4 linked regions of the Homo sapiens genome follow. The protein of the gene in region 4 interacts with the protein of the main gene of each other region in a pairwise test. Each region holds a gene or a part of one and is shown on either strand. Other genes may lie near its edges. The genes, in order: SPRY3, RBP3, AMMECR1 and HR.

Evidence for each region.
Region 1: the proteins of HR (region 4) and SPRY3 interact in binary tests that used the Homo sapiens proteins (3 or more experiments, as listed by UniProt).
Region 2: the proteins of HR (region 4) and RBP3 interact in binary tests that used the Homo sapiens proteins (3 or more experiments, as listed by UniProt).
Region 3: the proteins of HR (region 4) and AMMECR1 interact in binary tests that used the Homo sapiens proteins (3 or more experiments, as listed by UniProt).

What each region holds. Positions count from the first base shown.
Region 1 is NC_000023.11:155,615,488-155,622,789, forward strand, and holds part of SPRY3 (protein sprouty homolog 3), read left to right. Parts: intron 1-7,302. UniProt on the Homo sapiens protein: Inhibits neurite branching, arbor length and neurite complexity. Inhibits EGF-mediated p42/44 ERK signaling. Negatively regulates the MAPK cascade, resulting in a reduction of extracellular matrix protein accumulation.
Region 2 is NC_000010.11:47,351,363-47,358,664, reverse strand, and holds the end of RBP3 (retinol-binding protein 3 precursor), read right to left. Parts: coding exon 7,127-7,302; intron 5,341-7,126; coding exon 5,150-5,340; intron 3,290-5,149; coding exon 3,147-3,289; intron 1,564-3,146; coding exon 1,208-1,563; 3' UTR 784-1,207; downstream 1-783.
Region 3 is NC_000023.11:110,314,838-110,322,354, forward strand, and holds the start of AMMECR1 (nuclear protein AMMECR1), read right to left. Parts: upstream 3,249-7,517; 5' UTR 3,235-3,248; coding exon 2,762-3,234; intron 1-2,761.
Region 4 is NC_000008.11:22,127,717-22,135,076, reverse strand, and holds the start of HR (lysine-specific demethylase hairless), read left to right. Parts: upstream 1-4,066; 5' UTR 4,067-4,368; coding exon of another isoform or gene 4,369-4,473; 5' UTR 4,474-4,649; intron 4,650-5,866; 5' UTR 5,867-5,906; coding exon 5,907-6,518; intron 6,519-7,247; coding exon 7,248-7,360. Other genes in the region: protein HRURF, read left to right, coding at 4,369-4,473. UniProt on the Homo sapiens protein: Histone demethylase that specifically demethylates both mono- and dimethylated 'Lys-9' of histone H3. May act as a transcription regulator controlling hair biology (via targeting of collagens), neural activity, and cell cycle.

The sequences.
Region 1 (7,302 bases), on a different chromosome or scaffold from region 4:
GATCTTTGAAAGAGTTAAAAAATTAAAGAAGGAAGATTTATTATAAAAGTAGTGACTTTTAGCCAGAAAATAAATATTCTGGACACAGTGCAATGTTGAATTTGGCTGAAGCTTTGGTCTATGACAAGAATCCTGCTAGGTATTCTATAGAGAAACAAATAAATGCTAAAACTTTTCAGAAATCATCTAGACCATACAAAATTTTCCTCACCTATTCATGGACAAAAATTTGGTAAAGCTGAAGGGTATATTAATTTGTGTTTCGGTTTATGAACATTTCTGACTCTGGGGATATGAACATTTCTGACTCTCAACAGAAATGTGATTCAGCATAAACGTAGTAACCTATACAATTAATTTTGCAGTGAAGAAGTATTAATTAGGACTCATTAGTTAAAAGTTATCAAAACCTACCTGAAACTAACAAGCAAAAGAGAGAAATTTATGGGAAGATAATAAGGTGTTTCACAGAACTCAAGAAGGATTAGAACAATCAAAACTTTTAAAAAGGCAAGGTATAGTTAGGCCTCAAGAATCGTCAAAAACAAGGATTCCAGTGACATTGACTCTATCATTCTTTTACCCCTATTTTTCCCTGCACATTTATCTGGGGTCTCTCTCTCTCTCTCTCTCTCTCTCTCTCCTCTCTCTCTCTCTCTCTCTTCTCTCTCTCTTCTCTCTCTCTCATCCCCTCGTTCCCTTCCTTGCTTTCCTCCCCACTCCTCTCAAGCTCTTTTTGTTTCCCAAGTCCATGTAACAGTAGATACGGTTACGGACACCTTCCTAGATTTTCATATTACAGATTCAACCACTGAAGAGAGACACTAAGCCATATCAGGTCCTCTGAAAAGCAAATCTACAGATCTATCGTGGGTAATGGCTGGCAAGATAAAGAGGAGATTACAGTACAGCTCTATGGAAGTCTCAACCACCCCAACAGAGACTGCTAATTAGAGGAATCCTGCGTTAGACAGAAACAGCCCTAGTACACCTCTTGTGCTCAGAGATTGGCTGGAGATGCCTGGGAAGGGAATGGCCTTGGATCAAATGATGCAAAAATAATCCCAAAAGTGCTCCAGCTGGAGACTGTTAGCTGACTCCACTCCTCATAGTAGGTTTTCCCTTGAAAGATCTGAGAGGCACTCCCTGGTTACCATAGACCTTTATGGTCCTATCTCCATAAATCTATGAGGGATTTATTGGCCAAGTTTGAGACTGGTGGCCACCTAAGACCAATCAACTGTAGCTAGGTGAGCGATGTCACATATACCAAAGGATAATTTTCTCAGTTTTCCTGGGGCTGAGGAATTCCCTGTAATGTGCTAAAACCACAACAGTTCAGGGCAAACTAGGATGCTTAGTTATTTTATTAGTACCCATGTTAATAGGGGTGGGAAAGTTAAAACCGTCCAGTAATATCCTACTATATAAACAATTGTACTTTACTGTATTTATGGAGGAAATTCTATGTATAGTGGTTTTATTGGATTAGGATAATTTATAAAGGTCTCAGAAGAATTCCCTTGAAGATGACAAAAATTTCATACTTTAATTCTTGCATGCTGGTTCCCTTGTGCATTTATACATTCTTCCTCCATCTAGAATGCTCCTCTCACTGCAACCTCCCTCTCCTCAACCTTGTCCTCACTGTTAGAAATGCTTCTTGCCCATTTCTCTAGTTTCCACATGGAATTATTTCTCTAAATTAAGATTAAATCACATAATAAATGCCAAGCACATATCATAGGACATGGCATAAAATAGGGGCTTGTATCAGTCAAGGTTCTTAGTTGCATGCAACAGAAGCTGAAGCTGACTGATTTAAGCAGGAAAAAAAGTTATGTTGGGAATGACACTGGATCAGCACTCTTGCCGTTAGAAACATCATAAAACTGCATAAAATATGCAAGGAAACTGTTTAAAGATATTGAGCAATAGTCAGCCCATGATTATGATCCCCAGGAAAAGAGAAACTCACAAATCAAGCCCCAAGACTGCCTTAGCTCTTTGCCTGGTGACTATTTTCTGATCCCAGCATCAAGAGCTAGATTCCAAGCTGAGCTTGCAGTCTCATTGAACGAAGGAGGAAAAGATCAGAGCTCAGGGTAGCAGAAGCATCTGAAATCTATGGAGCAAGGCATTAGAGAAGACAATCTGTGCAGATGTTGGGACGGGTAAACATATGTCTTGGGGTTTCCAGCAAAACTTTAAAAAGAGGAGGAGTTATAGAACTTCTTGGTTTCAAGACTAACTATAAAACTACACTTATCAAAACAGTGTGGTATTAGAGTAAGAAATAACAAATAAGTCAATAAAATAGCTCAGAATCCAGTAATAGGCCGACATATATTATGGTCATATATTTCTTTGGTTTTAACCTTCTATTTGGAAATAATTGTCAATTCACAGGAAGTTTCCAAAAAATACAGGGAGACCTCGTGTACCCTTTACACAATTTCCTCTGATGGTAAAATCTTGCCTAACTCTGGTACAATATCAATCCAGGAAATTTACATTGGTAAAATCCACAGAGCATATTTGAATTTTACCAGTTACACATGCATATGTGTGTGTGTGTAGTTGTATAAAATATTCTATGTGTAACTTTGTATAATGACGACCACAATTAAAATGTAGAACATTTCCATTGCCACAAGCTTTCTCATGCTGCCCCTTTATAGCCACACTCACTTCCCTTTCTCCTCCTCAACACCTGGCAACCATTAATATGTTCTCCATCTCTATAACTTTGTCATTTCAAGAATGCTATATTAATGGAGTCAGGCAATATGTAACCTTTTGGGATTGGCTTTTTTTCTACTCAGCTTAACTCCCTTTAGATCCATCTAAGTTGTGTGTGTCAATAGTTGATTCTTTTTTATTGTTGAGTGGTGTTTCATGGTATGTATGTATCAGAGTTTGTTCAACCAATAACCCACTGAAGAACATTTGAGCTGTTTTCAGTATTTTTCTATTATCAGTGAAGCTTCTATGAGCATTCTTGTACACATGTGTTTTTTTTGGGAATACCAGTTTTAATTTTTCTGGCCTAAATGTCCAAAAGTATGTTTCCTGGGTTATATGCTATTTGCATATTTAATACTTTAAGAAACTACAACACCGTCTTCCAGAGTGGCTGTACCATTTTATATTCTCACTGTCAATGTATGAAAGATCCAGCTTCCATGCAACCTTTCCAGCATTTTGTACTGTATTTTTTATCTTAGCTATTTTTTATGTCAGGTATTCTGACAGGTCTGTGGTGATATCTAATTGTGATTTTAATTTGCCTTTCTCTGATGATGAATGATATTGAACATATTTTCATGTGCTTATTTTCTATCTGTATATAATCTTTGGTGAAAGGTTTCTTCATGTCTTTTGCCCATTTTCTACTTGGATTGTTCAGCATTTTTTATGGTTGAGTTTTGAGAACTTTATATATTTAACATACTAATTCTTTGTTAGATATGTGGTTTACAAGTATTTTCTCCCACTCTGTTGCTTGTCTTTTCATCCTCTTAAGACAATATTCTGCAGAGTAAAAGTTTTGAATTTTGAGGAATCCAATCTACCAAGTTTTTTTATGGATTGCGCTTTAGATGTCAAGTCTTTACTGAAACCTATATCCAAAGATTTTATCATGTTTTTAAAAAAAGTTTTATAGTTTTGTGGCTTACATTTAAGTCCATTATCCATTTTCAGTGACTTTTTTTGGTAAAGTATGAAATTTAGGTTGAAGTTCATACTTTTGCCTATAGATGTTCAGTTGCTCCAGGACTATTGCTTGAAAGGCTATCCTTACTTTTTTTTTAACTTGCTTTTGCACATTTGTCAAAAGTCAGTTGGGCAAATTTGTGAGGGTCTGTTTCTGTTTTTTTGTATTTGGTTCCATTGATCTAAGTGTCTATCCTTCAGCCAATACAATGCTGTCTTATTACTTTAATTTTTTTATATCATTACCAATGCCTTTGAACAGGGAAATTCTCTTAAACCACTGAAAGTTGAAGAAAATGAACCTCAAACTCTACCTCATACCATAAAAAAAACTCAACTTAGAATTAATCATAGACCTAAACGTAAATGCTGAAATTGTTAAGCATAAGGAAGAAAACATGGGAGAATATCTTCATGATCTTGTGTTAGGCAATTGTTTCTCAAAATAGAAAAAAAATCATTAACCATAAAAGTTTAAAGTGATAAACTTCATTAACATTAAAAACTTCTGCATGCCAAAGACATTGTTATGAAAATGAAAATATAAGCCATGGACTAAATACAAAATATTTATAATACCTATATCTTACAAAAGTAAGGTATCTATAATACATATAGAACTCTTAAAATCAAACATAAAAACACAAACAAACCCAATTAGAAATGGGAAAAAGATTTAAACATATACTTACAAAAGAAGATGTACGAATGGCCAATAAACATATGAAAAGATGTTCAACATCATTTACTCTTGAACTGAAGGAAAAGTTAAATCACAAAGACACAACACTTCACACAAGCTATAACATTTAAAAAAGAATGATACTACCAAGTGTTGATGATGATGTGGAGCATTTTGAGTTCTCATACATTGCTGATGGCAAAATAAAATGGCACAATTGCTTTAGAAAACTGGTTAGCAGATTCTTATAAAGTTAAACACACTTTATAAGATTCTTAGTTAAACACACTTTATAAGATTCTTAGTTAAACACACTTTAGCAGATTCTTATAAAGTTAAACACACTTTATAAGATTCTTAGTTAAACACACTTTATAAGATTCTTAGTTAAACACACTTTAGCAGATTCTTATAAAGTTAAACACACTTTCCCTATGACTCAGTAATACCACTCCTAAGTATTTACCCAAGAGAAATGGAAATATATACTCATACAGTCTTCTGCACAAATTTTTACAGCAGTTTTATTTGTAATAGCTCCAAACTGCAAATAATTCAAAACATGCAAATTGATAATTAACTATACATCCATAAAATGGAATACTACTCACCCATATAAAATAATTACTCGAAAGCAACAAACGTAGATGAACCTCAAAAACATTATACTCAGCTAAAGAAGCTAGACACAAAAGAATACATACTGTATGACAATTTATATAAAATTCTAGAAATTCCAAAATTAAATTATGCTGGTAGAAAGTAGAATAATGGTTTCCTGGAGCAGAGGAGTTGTGTATTTACTGGAAGGAGTAATGACAAAACCCTTCGGAGTGATGATAATGTTCTGTATCTTGATTGTGTTGTTGGTTACACAGTGTATACATTTGTCAAAACTCGTTGACTTGTATAGTTAAGATCTGTACATTTAACTATATATAAACTATACTTCAATAAAAATTAAGTTAGAAAAAACAGATATTTGGTGGCTAACAGAATTATCATGAATCGTGGAGAACCAGGCATGGGCTGGGTGTCTAGGACCACCAACCAAAAATTCACTGCACAACTGGTGTGACGAGGAAACCTCTTTTACTACCACAAAGGACTAGATGCTACTATATATACCAGTGCTATTTCTACAACAGAAAATCAACTTTACTGCAGCCAGTAATGCCAATGGCTGCCGCTTCTATGCTGGAAACCCGATTTACCAACTATTATTGTTCACAGAGTCAGTATGAGTGCAAGAATATGCAAGAACAGCTAAGTTTTGTGATCAAACTCTGTCACTATCATTATCTTCAGTTTATTCTGCTTATGTGATTCTGAATTGTTTTTAACTTTTGTTTTAGCAGACATTCTATGCACGTCTTGTACTATAAATAGCTTAAATCCATTTTGGATTTAAGTCAAGAAATGCATACAACAATGAAGTATATTCTAGTCATCAAACCATATTAATTTTTTCTCATATTACCTATTACATTTTTTCCAGTCTTACTGTTGGTGAGGCAAGAACCCTGGGCTCTGGAGTCAGACAAACATAGGTTTTAATCCTGGTCTACTCACATTGTCTACTCCATCCTTCCTGGATTTTCCTTTGTTCTACCACTCTCCCACTTCCATGAGTTTTCTTCTCCCTAAACATTCCTTTTTGTTTCAACTATTTCTCATAAAATGAGTTGGGCTATCATCATATGCCAACAGGAAAAAATGTGTCTTCAAGGGTCTGTAGGCCAAGTTACCAAATGATGTCCTCTCCACTCTGGTAGTCAGGGTGATATCAGCAAAGGTCCCCTCATTTCAGTATGGTCAAAGATTTATTTGAAATTCAGTGTATTACCAGCAATGCTTGGCCCAACTTCTCTAGTATGACTGACTTCCTGAGCAAGAGACTCAATATATCTGGGGCTCCAGAGCAGCCAAAGGTATTCAAGGGTCTCTTCATTTATACCGTATCTTATTACACAACGTCTATGCATCTGAGAAAGGAACTTCACCAACAGAGCAGTGCAGAAGACCCCGACATGGGTTCCCTGCCCTGCTTTTACTACAAACTCACAGAAGCCAAAGGCTACCCGCAAAGGGCAGGTGGGTGGTCCTCACTATCAAGTCAGTATCTCTGGAGTATAGGGCCACCTCCTGTACAGGCATTAAGGTCAACAGGCTTCATGTAGAAGCAATTTCAAACCAACACCTGTGCTTGTCAGAGCATGATGGGCATTCAGAAAAACCCTCACTCTGCACTTTTCACACTCTAAAGTCAGACTGTTGGGGCTATAAAATATATGTGATGCAAAGTATAGTAACTTTCAGAGGACTAACAAGAAATTATAATATCACTGCTTTTGGAAAATAGGTTCTAGTGGCCCTAGGGCATGTTTCATCCCTGAAGGATTGTGGGTATTGAAAACAAACCACTACCTGCAGTTAAAGTGAGAACTCCATGCTGTAAAATCAGTGTTAACCAGACATCCTACACTTATGTGATTTGTCTTAATTAGAGTTTGAGCTCCATAATTCACTGTCTCAGCGGCTTATTCTGGCTGTATCCCTCAAGTTTGCACAGCCAACCCCACCTTCATTCTGTAGTGGAACCCAAATAGGATCCTATCTATTGGAGCCATGTCTGCTAAGTAAAAATAAAAATGGAGATACCTAGGGCATGACTTTGCACTACAGGCTGAAAATGCTGCAGTTTGTGCAGAAAGCAGTACTTGTACAAATTTCTACAAATCAAGAATTAGAAGAGGAGAAAATAATAATGTGGATCATCACAGTGTCCTGGAAGGTTCCCCCTCCAAGTTTCTTCATATTTAAAAGATAGCAGTCTCTCAAAATGTTAAATTATCTGAAGATGATACTTTTATCAGTAACTTCTTGAGTCAAGCAGACCAACA
Region 2 (7,302 bases), on a different chromosome or scaffold from region 4:
GCTTCTGGCAGATGGCCGCTGCCCAGGCTCCCTGGCCACTTGCTCCAGATTAAACATCTTGCACAGGAGCTTCTGGTTGACCAAGGCAGGATCACATGCCCATGCCCTACTGCCAGAAGGGCTGGAAAAGTGGGGCTTCCAGAGTGTTCAGCTTTGTGGTGGAGAAATTATGACAGCTAACATTGGCTGGACACTAGATTAACTCACTTCATTCTCACAACTCCAAGTGTAGTATTATTTCTCCCATTGAACAGGTGAACAAACTGAGGCCCAAAGAAGTGAAACAAATTGCCCAGAACCACTCAGCTGGGGAAGTGGCTGGGCTGGTTTCCCACCCAGGCAAGGCTGACATCACTGTTTCCTACTGATTCCTATGGGCAGTGATTCTCTGATCATCCAAAGGTGCTGCAAATGCTGGGTGGCCCAAAGGAGGACACAGGTCCACCATGCTGGATGTGTGACCTTGGGTGAGCTGCGGAGTTTGTCTGTGTCTCAGCTGGCTCCTGGGTAGAAGATGAGAGTGGCCAGCTATGCAGCCGGCATGAGGCTCAGAAGAGACACAGCCAGTGTATGTACATCACCAGCAGAAGGGCCGCACCAGCCCTTTCCCTATTTAAGATCCACAAGATCTTTGCCACCTGCTGACCCCACAGCATCTTGCACCACATCTTAAATAAAATCAGCTGTCCATAGAGGTCAGCAGGGCAGATCCAGAAGATCTAAATAATGTGAATGGAGAACTCATGAAAAGAAGAGATTTAACAACCACTAGTGATCACTAAATTGTGGTTAATGGCTCGGGTATATAATTTATTTTATCTTCTTTATTTTGTATTTTGGAATAATGATAGCTGCATCTGAAAATAATGATATATGCACATTAATGAGTATTTAAGAAAAAGAGCAAAGTATGAAGAAGGAAGGTAAAAATACCACCCCAAGTTCTACCACTTAGAAGGAACCTTTGTTAAAATTTAGGTGGTTATTGGAAAGCCATATATATATACATATATATACATACACATATATATGTGTATATACATGTGTGTGTGTGTATATATACACACCTCCAGCTGTAACCTAACCAGAGCTCAGCAGGCCCCTTTGCTGCTCCTGGGAACCTCAGGCCGGGCCACCTGCAGGAGTGCCCTTGGTGTGTGTCCCAGAGGTTCTGTCTGCCCTGGGGCTCTGCCTATGGGGCCCTTCCCTACAGGTGGTCCTGCAGGCCTGGGCTCCGCTTCACCCTCAGCTGGTTGTGCTGGAGCATCTCCTTGGCCCTGGCGAGAGCCTCTTCTGCAGGGACAACCACATGGGGTGTCACCCCCACCCCTTCCCAGGAGCTGCCATCCGAGGCCCCCACAGAACGGGCCGTGGGGATAGTGAGGTAGAGGTTGGTGTCATCCACGTGGTAGGTCTGTGGTGGCTGGCAGCCCCCACTGGTCACCTCCCCAATGACCAGGGCCCGGCCCAGCCTCTTCATGATATAGGTGAACTCCTCCGCGGTGCCGGCCGTCACACTGCTGGTCAGAATGACCATGCTCTTCTTGGAGCCATAGCGTTCACCTGGAAGACATAAGGCCCTTCAGGATGGGGGTCATGTCAGGACCCTGGAGCACCTGTCTTCTCTATCCTGCCTGGGCCTGCAGTGATGGAGGAGGCCCGGGGGTTTAGGTCTGTGTCCTTGTGTCCACTTGTGAGCCACTTGACTTCTCTGAGCCTTGATTTCTGCATCCGTAAAATGGGGACAAGAATGCATGCCCAATCACGAGGATTTCAGTGCTTGACAACTCCCAACGAGGCCTTTTTATGCCAAGTGATAGGAAAGGCTTGACTCTCCTGAGAAAGGAGCATCCTCTCTCTTCATGAATAATGAGAACACCTAAACCGACCTGACTTCCTTTTCACTTTGGACTCAGAAAAGCCCAATTTGTGATGTATAAGAACAACTCTCCAGGACAGCACTGTCCAACAGGAATGCAACGTGAGCCAGAATGCTGGCCATAGATGTCATTTTAGGTTCCCTAGTAGCCATGTTAAGCAAGCAAAAAGAAACCCATGGTGTTAATTTTAATCATGTTTTGTTTAAGCCAATGTATCCAAAATACATTCTTTTCAAAATGTAATCAAATAAAATTATTAATGAGGTTTTCTTTTCATAATGTCTTCAAAATCTGGTATGCACATTACACTTCCAGCACATCACACTTCCAGCACATCTCAACTTGGGAGAGCCACATTTCAAATGCTTGGTGGCCGCAGGTGGCTTGTGGCTCCCATATTGGACCTTGCGGTTTTGGGGCCTCATTATCTGCAGAATTGAGTCTATCTTTAACTTCCAGTCTTGAACATCTATTTGAATTTAGAATTCACCTGGTTCTGATTTGCATTTACACTTGTAATATTATTGAACGTATGTCCTAGGAGCTACAGCAAAATGCCTGTGTATTACAGAAGCATGGACATGAAAATGGTGGGGTGTTTCTCTGGTCACAGGCACACCCCCATCGGTCTCTCCAGTCCTTTCTTGTTGGGTAGGAGCACAAGTTCCTTGGTCTTACACACTGGGCAGGGAAGATAGATGGAGGCCATCCACCCTGGAATGGGGCTTTGAGAGTTATGGTTCTGTAAAGCTCAGGGCCTGCCTTTGCTCCTATAGCCACTGCTCTGGGCCCAGGGCGGGGAACAGAAGCCCGATCAGCATCATGACCTTTCCAGGCAAGTTTGTGGCACTGTGGCTTGAGAGCTCAAGTACTGTGAGCACTGGCAATGCCCACTGGGGTTGGTGAGGGGCGGGGAGAATCCTTCAAATTCTGCATTTGTCCTGCAGGCTGGTGATTATGGTGCTAAGCCTGGGGGAAATTTTGGTATTAGACAAACTAATATTCACATTTTGGGTTTCACTTATTAGCTGCATGACCCTAGAAAAGATATTTGACCTAGTCAACACCCCCTTTTTTTTCCTCTAGAAAACGGGCATAGTGATACATGCTTTTCAGGGATTCGAGATCATGCACATCTAGTGCCTGGACTAGGACAGGGCCTTACATTCTGGTTACTATGACTTTTACCTACACCCAAGCTGTCTTTCCCTGGTTTCCCAGAAGCTTCTAGAATGACAGCAGAAAGGAGAAAGCTTCTCCACGTACCTACAACCTGGGCGTGTGTCCAGAGTTCACTGACAGAGTCATCAGGCCGGCTGTAGATCTTGTCCAGCAGAACTGGAGGGCCTTCATCAAAGAAGTAGGAGCACAAGATGGGAATGGAGGATGTGGGGCCACCGATGTTGAACCTGAAGGATGGGAAGCAGAGCCTGTTCAGGGGCTGAGCTCACAGTGAGGCCCTGTGTGCCCCTCGGGGAGGCCAGGATCTTTGTCCCATGGAGGGTTCTAATTCTTGGCAGCCTCAGTCTAGTGCCTCTTCCTCCTTTAGAATTCCATGGGTTGGCATTTTCCAGAGTATTTCCAAGAGTACTAGTCTCTTTAGAACAAGAAACTTAGTGATCAAATATGTTATCCTTTCCTTCTGCTATGTAATTAATACATGTTAATATATTAAAGGCCCTGACAAGTCCTGCAGTCAGAAACTTGTTGATAAATTTCCCCCATTTATTGACCATGGACTGCTCCCCTGCACCCATATCTTCCTATGAGTGGAACACATTTTGGGAAACATTGTTTTTCCCGTTGCATTCTGTGACAATCTTATGACACCTACCAGCTGTCTTAGTTCAGGTGTCTTAACAGGGCACTTAGTGTATTGAAATATTCAGGCTTGTGGAGCTGCATTGGGAGCAGGGGAGCCTGTATTTCTCCCAGGCCATTTAGATTTGTCCCACTGTGTGACCTCGTTGGGCCCCTGTCTCCCCACTGGGGCTAGTGATGTGTTAAGGAGCCTCGTCCAACTGATGGCCTGGGATGGCCTGGCTGGGTTCGGGGCCTGTGATGTCAGTGTCTGAACCTCCAAACAAACCTCAGGGGTGGGAGGGTCTTTAAGCAAAGTGCACTTGCAGGCTGGGGCCATCTCCTCTTTAAAAAGTGTAAATGGCATATTCAGAAGAAAGAGACTTAGCATGAGTGTCATTTGGGTGCTCAACAGAACTTCTAAAGAATAAAATGATCAGAGAGACCCCAGGAGCCTCAAGCTCAGGCTGTGAACACACACAGAACTGGAGCCAGGGCTAATGTTTTATCTCCCAGGGAGGAGAAGCAGTGGGTGCAGGACCGAGAGCCACCTAGTGACCACTAAGAACCATGTGAGTGAGCGCTGAGGGCTAGAGAACTGGAGCTGGGTGAATGCTTCTGGTCTGCCACCCCCTGCCACTTCTTTCAGACAACACGGGAGCATGGAAGGGTCCCGTCTGAGGAAGGCAACCTGCCCAGGGAGGGTGCTGGGGCATGTCCACCAATGGACCCCAGAGTCATGGGATGCCAGGTCTGGCCACTGCCTGAGGGTACTCATCCACCTCCTACCCCTGGTCCATGAGGTAAACTCATGACATATGAGGCACATTTTTACAGAAACAGAGGGGAGGTGGCTAGCTGAAGACATCCTTCTGACAATCATTTGGTGATGCAAAGAATTCTTTTGTTAACAATAGTGATTAACTTCTAAATTTTCCCTGTGTGATTTCCAAATTCTGCCTGTACGATTCATATGACCAGGGTTGTCATGTGTTGATTTTGTATGATGTGAGGCACACTCCCAGGTGGGGGGCCTGGCTGTCTCACACACCACTGACCATCAGAATCACCTGGGATGCCTGTCAAATAGAGATTATCGGGCCTGTCCCCTGGAGCTTCTGAGTCAGTAAGAGGGGAGTGGGGCCCAGGAATCAGTGTTTTTAACATCTCCTTCCTCTCCTCCCCACTGAATCCTATGACCAGGCAAATCTGGGGTAATTCTCAATCTGGAATGCACATTGGAATCACTGGAGAAGCTTGCAAAAACTACCAGTGCTGGGCCCCACCTGCAATGACAGCAGATCTGCTGGGCTAGCTGGCCGAAGCCCTGATAGGCAGGAGGCCTGGCCCCCCTCAGGTCCTCTGCTGTGTCACAGGGTTCCTTTTCTTCCCTGCTGTGGCCCATAGCTTTGACTGTCCCCTGGCAGCCCTGCGTCCTGGCTAGGAAGCACTGACCCCTGGCCACTGACCTCATGTCGATGATCATGGCATCCGTGTGCATGATCTTCTTCCAGATGTGCTCCACCAGCAGCCTGGAGACCTGGGTGAGCAGCTCACCGTCCCCAAACATGTCAAACCTCAAGTAGCCAATGTTGTCCTCAAGCACGTTAGTGTGGAAGGAAAACTTGATCAGCTCTTCAAATACTTCAGGGGAAGGGATCTGTAAGAGTTGGAGGTCCTACTCAGTGTCAGGAGGAGCAGCCAGTTTTAGAGCCCAGGAAAGCAGGCGCCATGGGAAATATTAAGGGCATGGGACAGGAACTAACATTTCTGAAGGAATTAGTAGACACCAGGGACTTTCCCAGTGGCATGTCTGGATGTGACATGCCACTGGGACATGTGTGATCTATGGGCAGCCTCCTTGCAGAGGATGCTCCTGTCTGCCACCCACATGCCCTGGTGTCCTGAGCTAGAAGGCCCAGGAATGGACTCCCCTCTGACCTCTCCAACCTTACCAGATACTTCCTATGTCTCTAAGCTGCTCCACTGGGGCAGGATTGGAAGATGTTAGTTACCTTTACCAGGCACCTGGCCCGGTACTAAGCACTTTGTAGAGCTTATCATCATCCTCACAGCCACCTGTACAGGAGATAACACGATCCCCATCTTTTCCATGGAAAAACTGAAGCACAGAGAGATTAAGTAACTAGTCTCAGGTCACACAGTCAGTAAGTGGTGGAGCCAGAATCTGAATCCACATCTGACTCCAAATCGTGAACCTTGGCTATACTGGAAAGGAAGGAGATGTTGATTTGGAAACTGGGGATTCTGCAAGCCTAGCACAGGCTACTCGCACGTGGATGCACCTCCTCCTCCCTCTCTAAGGCTGCTGGAGGGAGGCAGGTCTTGGTGAGATTGACAGGCAAGGAGACTTCATTGACAGAGACACTGCCCTCCAGGCCCTGCCCTGCCCTCAGTCACAGCTCTCTGGCCTCAGGCCACTCCCCTCTGCTCCTCTCCGGGCCTCAGTTGCGGAAAATGGGGATAACAATTCTGTAGTAGATGCTTTTGGCACTCTCAGCCCCCTCTGCTTTCAGCTGCACCCGACCCCACTGACAGGCTCTCCTATAGCACAGCCCTGCCTTTCCACCCGTAGCTCAGGCCTTCTCCAAGAAGAGGGAGCCTGCCCCACCCTGAGGCATGTCTCAGGGCAACTCTTGGCCAATGCGGGACAGGAACCACTGGGCCCTGCCTGCAGAGGGCTATGCCTGGGAGCATCCCTGCACTCGTCAGGGTCCTGGCTTCAGCAGAACAGCTTTGAGGCACCTGCCTGTCAGCTTCCCAACCCACTCTCCCTGCTCCCTCCTTCATGCCTGCTTCAGTAACCGCCTCCCAGACAAAGCGCCTGCACCCAAGCCCTGGTCTCAGACCCTCCTTGCAAGGGATCCCATGGCAAATGCTGCCCTGCCCAATTGTGACGATGCAGCAGACCACAGGTAGAACAGTGTGGAGGTGTGAGTGCTGCCTAGGTGGAGCTCTCGGCCAGCGTGGGGCACTTGGTGAAGTCCATTGGCCACCTCTGACAGGTGTTGGCCTCTTCCCTAGCACTGACAATGAGAAGCCCTGCCAACACTCACCTTCCACCCAGCCAAGGCTGAAATGCCTTCTATCCCAGGAGCTTCCGAACTGGCTTCCTGTGAGTATTGGTTGGCTTTCAAACTGGCTTCCTGTGAGGTGGGTGCAAAAGTAATTGCGGGTTTTGCCATTGAAAGTACTTTTGCACCAACCTAATATGAATGTTCTACAGAGGTGTTCAGCAACCCCAGGGTCACAGAGAGTGGATGGAACAGGTTGAGAAAGAGGAAAGGACTTGACCGGTCAAAACTTAAACGTGAGAACAAATCTAAAAGCCATTGTCACGCACTGTGCACAGAGCCCTGCATGTGCGGACAATGGGTCAACTCACTCCCGGGACTGGGTTCAGCCAGGTCTCTCTTGGGTCTCACCTGCATGGGCACAATTCCAGGAATGCGGTCCTTGGCATTCTCAGGGATATGGGCTGCCTTCAGGTGTGGGTCTCCGGAGAGCATCTGCAGGTCAGCCCCCAGGATCTCGGCTAGGGCCACTTCTGAGGTCACCCTGGAGTAGCGGCTCTGCAGACCGCTCAGTTTGGTGGCCATCT
Region 3 (7,517 bases), on a different chromosome or scaffold from region 4:
ATATTGACATCCCCTCAATACTGAGTGGAAGGATAACTAACTGATGGATCTACAGCTTCTAAACCCATAAAACGAGGATTTCACCAGTTACAGACATTCTGAGAGAAAAGTCCTGGGAAAGGATGAAAAGAGTGTGCGTTTACGTATGAGAAGTTAAAACTGTCAAAAGCACAACATCTGGTGGGCAGAGACATGACCTGAAACACACTGCTCATGACATGATAATAACTATGAGAAAAAAAAATCCCAATATGTCTGTTTATGTCTTATGGCACTTAGGATAAAGCAACACTAATAAGTACACAATGCTGTTAAATATGTAAAACAGAAAGACAAATGTGTGGTAGTTACTAAGGCACTGTTGAAATGCTTAGTTATGTCCCTCCCATAATCAGGAAGTTTTCCTGAATTTTCCACAGTACACCTCAAAAATGAGTTGAAGATAAATGGAAATAAGACAGTCCATTTTCCACTTAAGTGAACTTTCATTCTCCACTTGGTCATGTTTAGTGTCTACTCTACATTAGTTGTTTTATAGAATACATGACACATTCAAGGTCTGCTAGATGATAATAGTTATTATTCTTCCACCACCGTTTCAACATATCCACAGTGGTCAAAGTGTGTCCTATCATCTGCTTAATTCCATGAAAAAGAAATCCAGGGGCTGGGGTGTTTGAATAGAATAATATCTAAATACGTGTGCAAAGTGGCTACTGTTAAAATGATATTTTCAAAAGCATTTTCTGTATGAACTGGTCAAGCTCACTTTCCTTTTAAAATTCTTGTTATAGTCATTGAGTTAACCCAAACTCACTGTAAAATGTGTGAAAATAGCACCTCCTGAAAGTGTGTTCTCATATGCTTTGGAGCAATGGAGCGTGAATACTAAAGCAGCCTTTGCCAAACTCATGTTAACAGCTCAAGAACTAAACAGGAGTGAATTTTTGCAGTCCCATGACTTTGCAGAGCCAACCTAAGTATCATCCCAGGACTAGCTTTAATACATCACAGACATCCAAGAGAAGGCATAAAAGTCACAAATAAGTGACTCAAGCTAATAAATATTTCATAGATTTATTTTACATGGCAGTCTTTTCAAAATGAATTTTACTTCTTAACCAAAAAAATGAATTGGCTAAATAAAAGTGTGGACTTAGGATTTAAGCTTCTAGAATTAACACTATGAAATTTATAAAGATATTTATTTGACGAAGTGTTCTCCTGGATGCTCTTTCATGCACTTCTCATAAACCAATGCCCAAAGATTAACCAAGTCTAAAAGAAAATGCACAGACCACAGAAGAGTCATACAAAATTAAAGACATTTAAAGAATGAAAGCCAAAGAAAACAAACAGTACAAATGCACAATTTCCAGGACACTTTATTGTAATTTCCACTTTACATATTAATTTAATATTTTAGTCTAGGCAGAAATGTTTATACTTATACAACAGTAGTCCAATCCTCTAATCTCACAAAATGAAAAGGAGCAGTTTTAAAAGAACATCAATTCAGGTATTTATGATATGGGGGACAAGGGGCACTTGTCTTAGCTGGAAAAGGGGCTGATGCCTTTCAGTACGAGTTTCACTGAAATTTTTTCTGTATTATTTTTCTTGTTGATGCTAAGTACTCAAATAAAAGCAATTGCACTTTTTCTCATTCTGCCCTCTCTTGGTCTTTACATTCTGTCTAGCATTTAACGCAAAAAGTCAGTTTACATTCAGTTTACACATTAAAAAAAAAAAACCATATGCCCCACCTCCCACACATCCAAATGGACAGGGATTAGAATTAACCTGGCTTTTAGCTGTAACAGTGCTATTTTAAAATTTTTCAACCACACACTTGAAGGGTAAAATAATTTAAGATACAAAACCAAAGGAAACCATAACAATTCCTACACATTTACTATTTAACTGTTCTCAAATCATCAAGTATAACATGGATTTCTTAAAAAGTGAAATCGACACAAAAGCGAATGCACGCTTAATGTACAAACTGACCGTGGCTCTGTGGGGACAGTTCTCTTTGAATGAGCTATTATCCAGACGGTGGAATGGAAAAAAAAAAAAAAAAGGTCGCACTCTTCAAATGTGAGGAAGCCGGCAGTGCGCTCGCTACACGAGAAACACATTTTAATGGGTGTATTTGGATAAAAATAAGTAGTAAGGGAAAAATGTGTTTTAAGAAACCTCCCCCCTTCCCAGGGCACAAGAAAACCCAGAGGAGAAGATGGGTAACCTCACAAGCTCCAGAGCTAAGTTCCATCACTAACAGAAGTTGGATAGTTGCTATTTTTCATCCTGCAATGGGATAGTAGTTCTCCATGTGCAAGATACGCGGGGCGGGAATACTGGCGGGGCTTTCACTTGGGGTAATGGAAACCAAAGTGAGGAGAGGTCAACACCTTGAGTAACCCAGATCTCCAAAACCGGGGCAGGGTGAGGGGTGGTGGGGGTGGTGAAGGAGACAAGTAAAGGAGTCAAAACTCCTCGAAGTCATCGCAAAGAGAAAGCTAACACCTCTAGGAGCCACGGGGCCATTCCTTGCAGCAGCACCCTGCTCCAAGTGTGGGGTGCCTGCCTCGGAGGGCAAAAAGCGCAGGGTGCCCTTAGTTCAGTTGAGTAGCTCCGGGGACCCGGGCAGCGAGAGGGCAGGGGCATCCGCCGGCCGGGAGGCGGACTCGCACTTTGCCTCAACTCTGAGCCCCATCCCGAGCGCAAGGGAGAGGGCGGCGGAGGGCACGGTACTCACTAGGGCTCGTTGGTGAATCGGGGGGTCCGGGGCTGCTGGTATCCATACAGGTGACAGTAGAGCACATCGAAGCAAAAGCAGCACATCTCTGCTGACACCACCATCTTCCGGGAGCCCGGCGATGAGGACGAGGCGGCGGACGATGAGGAGGGTGAGGAAGAGGTGGCGGCGGCCGGGGTAGAAAGTAGGGTCCCCACTCCGCAGCTCGGAGGTGGCGACAGGGCGATCCCCCCGCCGCCGCCGCCGCAGCCCTGGGGGGGAGAGAGGGTACAGCCGCTGCCGCTACCTCCTCCGGTTAGACCTCCCAGCCCGTTGAGCCGCGTACCGGCGCCTCCTAGTCCCAGCTCCCCAGCTCGGCACTGGCTCTCTCCGCTGCAGTGGGAGGAGGAGGAGGCGCCACCACCGCCACCCGAGCCAGAGGGGGGCGAACTGGACAGTTTCTGCTTCTTCACCCCGCAGCAACCCGCCGCCATCTTGGAACAGTCTCCCCCACGCAGCGTTTCCGACCCATAAGTGAGGCGAGCTGGCGGCGGGGGCGAGCACGCTGCGGCTCAGGCCGCCGGGGGCGCGCCAGAGGCTGGCGGGGCGCGCGCGCGCCGCTCCCGGCCCCGTCTGCCTAGCCACGCGGCTGCCCCGCGCGCGCCCCCGCCTCGGTGCGCGCTCCTCGCTTTCGCGGCTGGGCGCCTCGCGCCTGTCCCGCCCGACTCGTGCCTCTTCTGAGCCGCAGCCCCAGCCCCAGCCCCAATCTCAATCTCTCCGGCCGGCAGAGGTTGGAAGACAGGAAGCCGATTAGAAAGGAAGGTGAAGGAAACAAGAGTCAGACAGCGGAAAGTGGGAGCAAAGGGAGAAGGTGGGCACGCCCGGGAAGGAAGGAGGGAAAGGGAAACTAGTGGGGGTAGGGGGGAAGAAAGGAGAAAGTCCGAAGTAAGCATCCAGGTCCCAAAGCACAGCTCAGTAACCCCCCGCCGCAAGCAGTATTAATGACACTTAAGCCCAGTTACGTGGAACCTGAGCCACCCGGCCTCAAATACACGGGTTTCTGAACTGTTGGAGTGTGAGCGAGCAGGTGCCCAGAGCTCCATACCTGAGACCGCCCCTGTAAAGTGTGTACAAAGCAATCCAGGAAATGGCCACGCTGCTGTCTTTTTAATTCCAGCCTAAGCACACACCAGGGTACTCTTTCCTTTCCTTATGGAGAAATATTCAAGTCCGACTGAATCTATGTATCTTGTACTTGTTCCCCCAACTTACCCTCCTTGCCCCGTTTAAACATTTAAAAGCCAAAAATAAAGTCCTAACTAATACTTCACTGGTTCAAAGATACTAATTGTGCTTTGGGACTTGCAGTGGTGGACTTTTCTGGTTTTGGTTTTTATTTCTTGGCTTGGGTACAAAGCAATTAGGAATATTATCTGTAGTGCTCAGATCTTAGAGATAAATAGGGAAGGTAATGTACTTAGTCACAAATTGAAAGATTTTGTTCAAGTATATAATTAGCTCTTAATATTCATTTTTAAAATTTCTCAATTAAATGCTTGGATGGATGAGGAGACATATGAGTCAGTCCCTTTCTGGGTGCCTAAGTGCAGCTTAATAATAAAAATAATGACAATAATCAAATGTTAAAATTCGTAGAAATGAACGTGATAGAAATAGAAAGCGTAAGTTATTTGCATTGTATCTACACCATGCTAAAACATCTAGATAAAGTCAGGTATCTGCATATTTAAAAACTGCAGATTGATTTTTGTCACCTTTTTTCTACATGCGTGGGATCTTGCAGATAGCTGGGGGCTGTTCATTCCACTCAGGGAATAAAAACAAAACAATTTATTCATTCAGTAATATTGAGCCTCTGCACCATACTATGTGCACAACACTATACTTCTGTTGAAATCCAGGGCGTACTCAGGAAGTATGCCTCCCGCTCTAAAAGAGTTTATGAATTAAGTCAGATACATGCACATAATCAGATAAATAGCTATTATAGTATGTATTGAACACTTTTTAGGTCTCCAATACCATACCTCGTCCTACCCCATAATCCTTCAGAATAAGATACTATCTCGTTTTATCTTCACAACAATGCTCTGAGGTTACTCATTAACAGATGAGGCTATTAAACCTCAGAAGTAATTTGCCCAACATCACACACCTAGAAAGTAACAGAGCTAGGATTGGAATGCTGGCATGTCTGATTCCAAAAACCATGCCATTATACTACATTGCCTCTCACTAACAATATATGATAACAAGGCTAAGGATGGACAAAAGATAGTGACATTACACTCCAGCAGGTGGAACCGAGGTTAAACAGAAATAAGAACTTAGTTTTTATGGAAAGATTGAGAGACACTGAAATATGTTACCAAGGAAAGATGAAAAATCTCCTTCCAAAAAGATTTTATGAGATAGATAGATGAAAATCTGGAATGGTTAGATGCAGCCTAAAGACAAAAGGGATAGTTTAATTGGTCGGTGATATGTAATTTCATCCTCTCAAACTTCATCACTGTTAGAATTAACCTTAAGTATGAAACAAATAACAATTCTTTGTCAATTACTAGTGGAGTAAAAAAATGCATTAATATTTTGTCTATGTTACAGAAGAGAAAGCAGATTGGTTTTTTTAAAAAGCACCACAACAACTGGTATGTTAGGGTGTTTTGTACGTTAGGGTGTTTTGTTTTGTACTTTGTCCTTAACTACCACAGGCTACCTTTTAATTTTTTTGAAACTAGACTGAACATAATATCAGACAATAGGTATCGATTTACTCCCCACCCCACTAAAGTGATCATTTCTAGAGTAAAAAACCAGAGCCATTTAATGACATCACAAAACAGTTTAGCACAGGAAGCAAAGTAGGATACCATGGATGGCTGCTTCTGCTAGGGGAATTTAGGAAAGCAGAATGTAATCTCCCAATTTAGAATTTGGCCAGTAGACAAGAGTCTAACGCCCCTACTCTTGTGAAAAATAGCAAGGAATCTTTAATAAGCACCAGTAGTCATGTCCTTAGTTCTGCATTTCATCTAAAAGACAAAGCACTATCATGGCTATCCTGCCAGGCTAAGGGACTGATGCAATGGGAAAACCCAAAGACAAGGACACCCCAGCTGAATTACAAAAATAGCTTTTCCCTAGAGGATTTTCAATTCCAATTCCAAACCTCACTAGCATAAAGAAAATAGACAAACACAAATGTGATAATTGCAGAAAATACATCATTACCTGACCGCTAGGGGTTATTATCTAAGTACTTTGTTGTATTGGCTGACTAAAAGGGGGAAAAACACTAACCTTTATCTTTGTGTTAACTTCTCCTGAGCCTGGCTCATCTCCCATACTAACCTTGAGCCTCAAGATGCTTTATAAATCGCTTGGCAAGTAGTGGTGATGGTGGTAATGTCTCCTTTAGGCATTTGAGGAAATGCCTCTCCTGGCCTTGTTTTCTTGTAAAGTCACCAGCATAAAAAGAAACATATTTCATTCAAACATAAACTAAATCCACAGAACAAATTCTGTGAAAAAAATTTTTTTACATCTATGCAAAGTGCACACTGGGTGGATAGAAAAACTGACCTTGCTCAGGATTCTCTTGACTTGAAGTATAAAGGTCAAAATATGATAGAGCACATGGTTTCTACCCACTGCTGATACTGGACTGCAGTGATAATACCCTCCAGAGGAAACTTTAAGTTGCCTTCCTCTCTTTGTAACTGACTGTCAATCTGGGAGCTGAAGATTCCACTTAAAAAAAAAAAATAGGCCATAGTCTCTTTGTCAACAAAGCACATTCAAATTGTGAGCATTTTTATTTCTGCAATTTAGAGGCAGCTCTAAATTGCTGTTAACTAACTCCTGTCAAAGGCTTTGTTTTACAACTGTGGAAAAAAATACTTGGACAGAGGTTATGCATATTATTTATTGTGCAGCAAAGCTAGTAATTGAATTAAACCCAATAGTTAGTTAATATATTATCATTGCCTCAATTTGTTCTCGTGTTTACAACATAGTTATTTTTTCATTTCAGAAAATAAGAATAATTATAATTCGATGAGGTGGTGAACTTAATGTTGCAAAATTATTTTCTTAGGTTTCTGGGGTTGTGGGTAAAAGGAGGAACATTCACATATTTCATTGAAAAAAAAACCTGCCATTTATGCCCAAACAAGTGTTATTTTTATCCTCTGTCATCAAACTTTCTCAACTGTCATCCTTGAACAACTGCAGAATGTAATATTCTTAGCTACCACTTTGATCTAACCTTGTACACGTATAACACATGGTTGTTGTGGTGGAGGTGGTAATCAGTTCCCTTTTATATTTGAATGAATACGTGAGTAAATACTGAAATTCTTTACCTACTTTTCAATTCAAATTCGTAAATCAGTTTTTGTTTTTCTGATTACAAAACAGATCCTTCCTTCCAAAATTCTTTCTTTATCTAATGAACACATTTATGAGCAAAAGCACCATGATCTACCTTGGATTGTTTTCTAGTTGTTTCATTTACATCTTCTATTGTCAACTTGAGTACAAACTAATTGAATGTTGTTTTGCTACCTATTTCCTTTAGAGAAAGTTCTATAAACTCCTTAATGAGATTTAGATATGCTAATATCTACTCTGAATGTGGAAGAATTAATAAAGCTAGCTAGTTGTAGATTGGAGAAAAAGGCTTTCTAGGAAGAAGATGATCAAACAGAGTGTTATTTGGGGCAGTTAGAGGAGTTGTGAACAATCAAAACAT
Region 4 (7,360 bases):
TCTTGTAATCATTCATGAACAAGCCCAACACCCCCAGCGCCCAGCACAGGGCCAATACCTAAGAAGCCTGGAGGAGTTTTGCTGGTGAAAGAACAAATGCGTGAAGTGACCATATGTTCTGGGTGGGGGAGGCCGGGCGGGTGGGATGGCCTCGTGATTTCTGCCTTTGTGCCCTGCATCGCCTGGGGCCCACCGCCAAGCCTTGAACATGCCAAGGCCCCTAGAACACGGGTTTGGTGAACGGCTGACTGCAGTTGTATGAATTCCAACACATGCTGGGGACAGAGGGGAAGGAGCCAGGAGAAGTCCAAATTCTGGGGCATTTCTGGGTGAGCACACATGGGACCCGGAGGCTCAGGGCACTGGTTGTCAACTGGGCTTCCCTGAGAGCCAGCCCTGCCTCTCTGAGAACCCCTGAGACCTCACCTTTGCCCAGCAGTTGCACACTTTGCCTCCAGTTGCACACTGGAGGGGGTTACTGTCTCACCCTCCACCCCCTCTGGCCTGGCCTCTCTTGGAAGAGGAGGCTGCATGCCAGCCTGCCTAAGCACCCCCAACCCTCTTCTCGCCACCAGACAGTGGGCCACGAGCAGGATCAGGGCTGGTGGGGACACAAAGCTGCCACAGCCAGTCCCCTTAGAGCTGCACACCTCTGCTGGGTCCTGGCCCCTGCCCCACTTGGTTTGTGCCCTGGTCTCACTCCTCACCTCCCCTGCAGCTTGTCTGCTTTTGAGGGGTTCCTGCATATCCACCCTGGTTTCTGGGTGCGGATCGCCCTCTGTTCTTGCCCCTCTCTTCTCTCTGCTCTCCACCCACAGCCATCCCTTGGCCCTTCCAGGTGGCTCCTCTCCCTCCCTGACTCTTCAGCCCCCATCACTGTCCCTCTAGGCCTGGGGCCCTCCGTGTCCTGGTCCCCTTCCCCGTCTCCAGCCTCCATGTGCGCCGCACGCACTGGCTGTATTTTTAGCTGTCACTGATTAGCCTCTAGTTCTGACACAGCCCTGGCCCAGGCTGGGTTGGGGCATCCTGGTTGGCACTGCCCTCCACCTTGAGGGGGTTAAGGAGGTGGCACTCAGCCTCTGGCTCCATCCTCTACCCAGCATCAGGGACCAGAGGTCTCAAGAGCTGGGTAGGGGGCAGACGCCTGGGCAGGAGGAGGATTCTCTGCTGCTGGAGAAGTCCTGGGGGCCACAGTTGGTGTTTCCGGGTAGGCACAAAGGTCTCAAGCCCAGGGCAGAGTGGAGCTGGCTTCCTCTCCCCGGTGGGTAGCTTGTGGGGGTAACCTGGAGGGGAGGGGAGGTGGGGGGAGGAGGAAGCGCACTGGGAGGTGCAGACTGAGAAGAGGAATTAGGTTAGGGATGTAGGTGGGTGGGCGGGAGGGGATGGCGGCATCTGCTTTGGAGCTTCCTCCGGGTTCCAAACGCATCCCCACACTTCCCTTCCCCTCCTCCCCACACCCTGCCCCCACCCCCGCGGGTCCCGGGAGAATTCGCCTGGTATTCCCCCTTCCCCATCCCCCACCAGGCGTTGCCACAGGGTGGGGGGTGGGGTGGGGGGAGGCCAGCCTCAGCTGTCTGAAGGATGGAGGGGCTGGGGAAGCAGGGCTAGGTGCCCAGACGGCCGCGTGTGTGGGAGGGGATGTCCTCAGATGCCCTCCACCCGGCAGTCCCCGCTCTGACGTGGGTGCCCCCCCTCTCCCCGCCCGGATTAGTGGCAGCTTGGCCTGACTCTCCGGGGCTCCTTCCCCCGCCCCCGCCTGCTGCCCTCCCCTGGGCCGGGGGCTGCTCCGCCCGGGGGGCACTGTGCTTGCCCAGGTAAGGGGCTCTGGGGATGGCATGAGGGCCGCCGGCTCGTGAGTGCTGCTGTGCCCGTCAGCACGAGCGTGTGTCAGCGAGTGAGTGTGTGTCAGTGAGCCAGGGGTCGGTGCGGGGCTGGGGCTTGGCCCCTGAATGGCTGGGGGTGCTGGTCAGCTTGCCTTTGTCCACAAGTCTGGCATTGTGTCCACGCGCCGTGTGGCTTTTCTTCTGTGTTTGTGTCTTTTGTGTGTCTCCTCAGCTCTGCTCCGTCTTCAGGCACAGAACAGCCGGCTACAAGGACTCTGTGGGCCTGTGGCATGGGCTCCAAAGCGGGATGGGGAGCTGGGCGAGGGTGGGGAAGGGGTCCTTCCTCCCATCCCGCGAGTCCCCACGAGCCCCTGGGCTTTTCAGGAGCCTGTCCCCAAGAGCCCTGCTACTCTAGTCCAGGGACCGTGGCCTGACAAAGCAGACATGGCAACTGGGGTTGGGGGGGATATCTGCCCCACTCCCCTGGGATAGTCCCCATCCCCTTTGGGGATGTCAGCGATAGGTCCTCAGGGTTCTGGACAGCGCAGGCTCCCATCTTGGCCTCTCCGAGGCCCCAAGCCGCAGGAATCTCCCCCTGGCACTCCCACAAGCTTCGGCTGCTGAGGAGGGAGCACAGAGAACACAGATGGGGGACCACAGACACACCCCAGCCCTTACCTTCACCCCTGGAGCCAGCCTGGGAGTGGGAGGCCGGGCCTCAGGGCCTGGGGCCTCCAGTCCATGTTAGACCCTCTACAAGCATCTCCCCTGGCACACTCAGGTCCCAGCCACCCTCAGGGGAGCTGGGGAGGAAGGGAGTGTTACTAACTCAGTCATGTAAACAACCCCTACCAGCCTGCCTTGCCACAGAACTGGCCTCTGGGGGCAGGCCAGGGGCAGGGTGAATGGATGCCAACATGGCCCAAGTCCGGCCCAGTGCCCGCTCCTTTAGACCCCCGCTCCCCAGGACCCCCACTCTTCTCAACCGGTAGAAGGCTCTAGGCCTTGCTCATCCCTTAGGAGGAAGGCTCCTGGCTATTCAGGGCTCCCCTCTGCAGGGATGGTGGTGTGACTTGGGACCAAGCTAGAGGCATCCAGAACCCATCGCTTGCAAGGGATGGGAAAGAGGGAGTGCAGCTTCTGTCCCAGGCAGGCCAAGGTTGGCTTCCGCAGGGAGGCAGGGGAGCCGAGGGTGGGAGGTGGGTGCCTGAGGGGAAGGGAAGCGCCCGTTGGGCGTGTGGGTTTCTGTGTGAGTCTGAATCTGTCTGTGTGTGTTTGAATCTGTCTGTTTGTGTCTGCACTGGAACCACCCCCGCAGCGGAGCCGGGATGCTTCCTCGGGTGGAGGGTGCCCTGCTTTTCCATTTCCTCTCCTCCTCTCTGCACTCTCCCGGGAGCCACTCCCATGGGCGCCTCTCCAGCCCCTGGCCTGGAAGCACCAGGAACCCTGGGGATGGGGCAGACCCTCACAGCCCGGGGTCTGGAGCCGGTGTCGGAGCTCATCTGGGCCCATGACCTCTCCAGACATTTGGCAAAATCAAGGCCCTTAGACCAGGGACAGACCCAAGCCCAGGCCCTCCCAGAGGTCCTAGGACGCAACCCTTTGTGCCCTTGGGCTCTGGAAGAGGTTTGGGAAGGGTTTGGGGTGGAAGATGGCAAAGAGCAGCTTGGCCAGGTGAGGATGAGGCAGGGCAGACACAGGCCAGTGGGGCGTGCCATGTGCCACAGATGGAGAGGACCAGGAGCCAGTGGCCCGGCAGGCACAGCCCGGTTGGCGTGGGCCAGAGCGCCCATCACTGACCCGTGAGAACTCGACTGCCCCTGCCAGCTCTGGCACTGCCCCCTCCCAGCCGCCCCGCCCTAGCACCCTGGGGGGCACCCCGCCCAACCGTGGCCTGGTCCGGCCCCTCCCGCCCTTTGCTCCAGTTCCCGGGCTTGGCACCTATAGTGGGGGTGCCGCCCGCCTGCCAGGCTCCGGGGCCGGGCCCACGGGAGGGTGGGGCGGCTGGGAAGCTGGCACGCTGCCCCGGGGGAGCCTCTCTCGGCAGGCGCCCGGGTGCCGCGGGGGGGAGGGGGAACAAAGGGCTCATTCTCCCCGTGCGCAGCCGGTGGCATCGCCGGGGCGTTGGCGGAAGCCCCCGGGGCCCGGGAGGGGGCAGGCCCAGGCGCGGCCGCCGAATCACGGGCTCCTGTTTCCCGCAGGGTGCTGGAGGAGGAAACCGGCGGAGCAGCTTCCCCACTCTCAGTTGCGCTTCTGGCGATGGCGATCAGAGGTCCTGCTGCGCTCTCCGCCGCGCTCTACCTCCATTAGCCGCGCTGCGCGGTGCTGCGCCCTCGCCGGTGCCTCTCTCCTGGGTCCCAGGATCGGCCCCCACCATCCAGGCACGACCCCCTTCCCCGGCCCCTCGGCCTTTCCCCCAACTCGGCCATCTCCGACCCGGGGCGCGTGTTCCCCCCGGCCCGGCGCCTTCTCTCCCTCCGGGGGCACCCGCTCCCTAGCCCCGGCCCGGCCCTCCCCGCGGCGCAGCACGGAGTCTCGGCGTCCCATGGCGCAACCTACGGCCTCGGCCCAGAAGCTGGTGCGGCCGATCCGCGCCGTGTGCCGCATCCTGCAGATCCCGGAGTCCGACCCCTCCAACCTGCGGCCCTAGAGCGCCCCCGCCGCCCCGGGGGAAGGAGAGCGCGAGCGCGCTGAGCAGACAGAGCGGGAGAACGCGTCCTCGCCCGCCGGCCGGGAGGCCCCGGAGCTGGCCCATGGGGAGCAGGCGCCCGGTGCCGGCCACGACGACCGCCACCGCCCGCGCCGCGACCGGCCGGTGAAGCCCAGGTAAGCGCCAGGAGCGCGCCGTCTGGGGACACTCGTGGCGGGGGATTTCTGAGCCGAGCCTGCGGTGCCCGTACGGAGCGTGTTCCCCGTGCCCCTGTGGGCTGGGCCACACATTCTGACACCTGAAAGTTAGGAAGCCCGACGCGGCCAGACCACGGCGGAGCGGTGGCTCCAGAAAACCTGGGCGCCCTCTGCCACTGCGCCGTCACCTCCCGCCTGGGGCTTCGTCGCTCTGGCCGAAGGGACCGCGCCAAGGCAGCGCTGCCGCTCTAGTGCCACCTGTCATCCTGGTCCCTTGCACGCACGTTCAATTTTCCCTCCCTTGCCTCTCTCTGGGGCCCAGCCCGCTTTCCCCGCCTCCTTCCCTCTCCCCTCCCCGCCAGGCTGAAGTTTCCAGCGGCGGTGGCGGCTGCCCTGGCACTGCTGGCTGGGCTAGGGCAGCTTGACCCATCCAGCTGAGGCTTCTTAATCCCCCTCCCCTGTGCCGGCGCGCTCTTCCCGCTGGGGGCCAGGGCGGGGTTCCTAGCCCCCTGCAGTTGTCCTGGGACTCTGCTTGAGAAGCCGAGAAACTGCAGGGCTCTGGGAAGAGGCTGACTCAGGGCCGCCCAGGTGTAGAGAGAGACACAGCCAGCGGCCCTGGCTGGCAGCGTTCCCCAGCGACTCCAGCCTGCCAGGCCTGCACTTCCCACGGCTACAAGCCTGGCTGGGGCTGTAGGCTAGGGTTGGGCTAGCAGCACCCCCAAAACCACGGATTGCAGGATGGGAAGAATCCTCTGAGCCGACCCAAGCCTCAAGGGCACACTGAGGCCCAGAGGAGTGACATGATTTGCCCAAGGCCATACAGCATAGGACAGAGTCAGGCTCAGGATCCAGCCTTTTTCTTCATTCAGTGCCTTCCACTTTCTGTCCTCCCTCATGGGTCGTGAGCAGATTCCTAGCTTGGTGAGGCCAGGACATGCCCTACTAGCAATGGCAGCCTCCGCTGAGGGGCACTGGCCCAGGTGGAATTTGGGGAAGGGGTAACATCCCCACACTGGAGGAGCAAGATGTGTCTGGCTGCATGTGGAGAGGCAGCATGGTGCCCAGTTGTGGGCTGGCACTTGCCTTACTGGTTTGAGCTGCCTCAGTGTTGCCAGGGCGGTGCCCACTCTGTGCCAGGCTGTAAGGTGCTTGGGACATGTGCCCCAGAAGCTCATGCTTTGATGGTTATGCTCCAGGGACCCCCCTCTGGGAGAGCCCCATGAGGGCAGGAGAGTGATGGAGAGTACGCCCAGCTTCCTGAAGGGCACCCCAACCTGGGAGAAGACGGCCCCAGAGAACGGCATCGTGAGACAGGAGCCCGGCAGCCCGCCTCGAGATGGACTGCACCATGGGCCGCTGTGCCTGGGAGAGCCTGCTCCCTTTTGGAGGGGCGTCCTGAGCACCCCAGACTCCTGGCTTCCCCCTGGCTTCCCCCAGGGCCCCAAGGACATGCTCCCACTTGTGGAGGGCGAGGGCCCCCAGAATGGGGAGAGGAAGGTCAACTGGCTGGGCAGCAAAGAGGGACTGCGCTGGAAGGAGGCCATGCTTACCCATCCGCTGGCATTCTGCGGGCCAGCGTGCCCACCTCGCTGTGGCCCCCTGATGCCTGAGCATAGTGGTGGCCATCTCAAGAGTGACCCTGTGGCCTTCCGGCCCTGGCACTGCCCTTTCCTTCTGGAGACCAAGATCCTGGAGCGAGCTCCCTTCTGGGTGCCCACCTGCTTGCCACCCTACCTAGTGTCTGGCCTGCCCCCAGAGCATCCATGTGACTGGCCCCTGACCCCGCACCCCTGGGTATACTCCGGGGGCCAGCCCAAAGTGCCCTCTGCCTTCAGCTTAGGCAGCAAGGTGAGTGCAGGGGCAGAGAGGGTACCTGTGGCTCTGGCCTAGCAAAGTTGCTCGGTGGTCCCCAAGATGCCCTTCCACTGTGATGAAAAGAGAAGGCAGCACCGAGGTAGAGGGGTCTATCAGCTTGGAGCTGTCCCAGGCCCCACAGTCAACCCCAAGCAAGCCCTACCCTGAGCAGCTCCATCTCTCTAGGCCTCCCCTGCCCTCGGGTCATTGCAGCCACTGACTCACCCATTGTCTGCCTAGGATAAGGTCCTGGGAACTGTGGCCTTGGAATGTGTGGCTTGTCCTGGGAGGAGATGGGTGGGCAGACAAGGGCCCTCTATCTGAGACTGGGATGTGCAGGGGACCCCATGGCCCATGTCTAGGGTACCTCCTCCATAGATGACTCCCACTCCCAGGGATGAGATGTTAAAACACTTAAAACTCAGTATGGCACAGGACACCAAATGGCCCAAACAGACCCCAGATGCCCTTTGGCTGTGCCAGGCATTCACTCTTTAGTTCTTAGACTTCCTTGTGGGGACGTCTGAGAAATCCTGGGGGAGGAGGTGGGGGTTGCCAGGACAGTGTCAGAGGCACTCCAGAGACCTAGGGCAGTGCTGTTTATTAATCAGAATGTGAGGGCTTCAGTATTCTCCCCTTCCTTCTTGCTTGTCAGTTCTGCCCATCCATTTAGGCATGGGGAGCCCAAGTCAGCTGAAGCGTAACACTTTCTCCCCTCTTTAGGGCTTTTACTACAAGGATCCGAGCATTCCCAGGTTGGCAAAGGAGCCCTTGGCAGCTGCGGAACCTGGGTTGTTTGGCTTAAACTCTGGTGGGCACCTGCAGAGAGCCGGGGA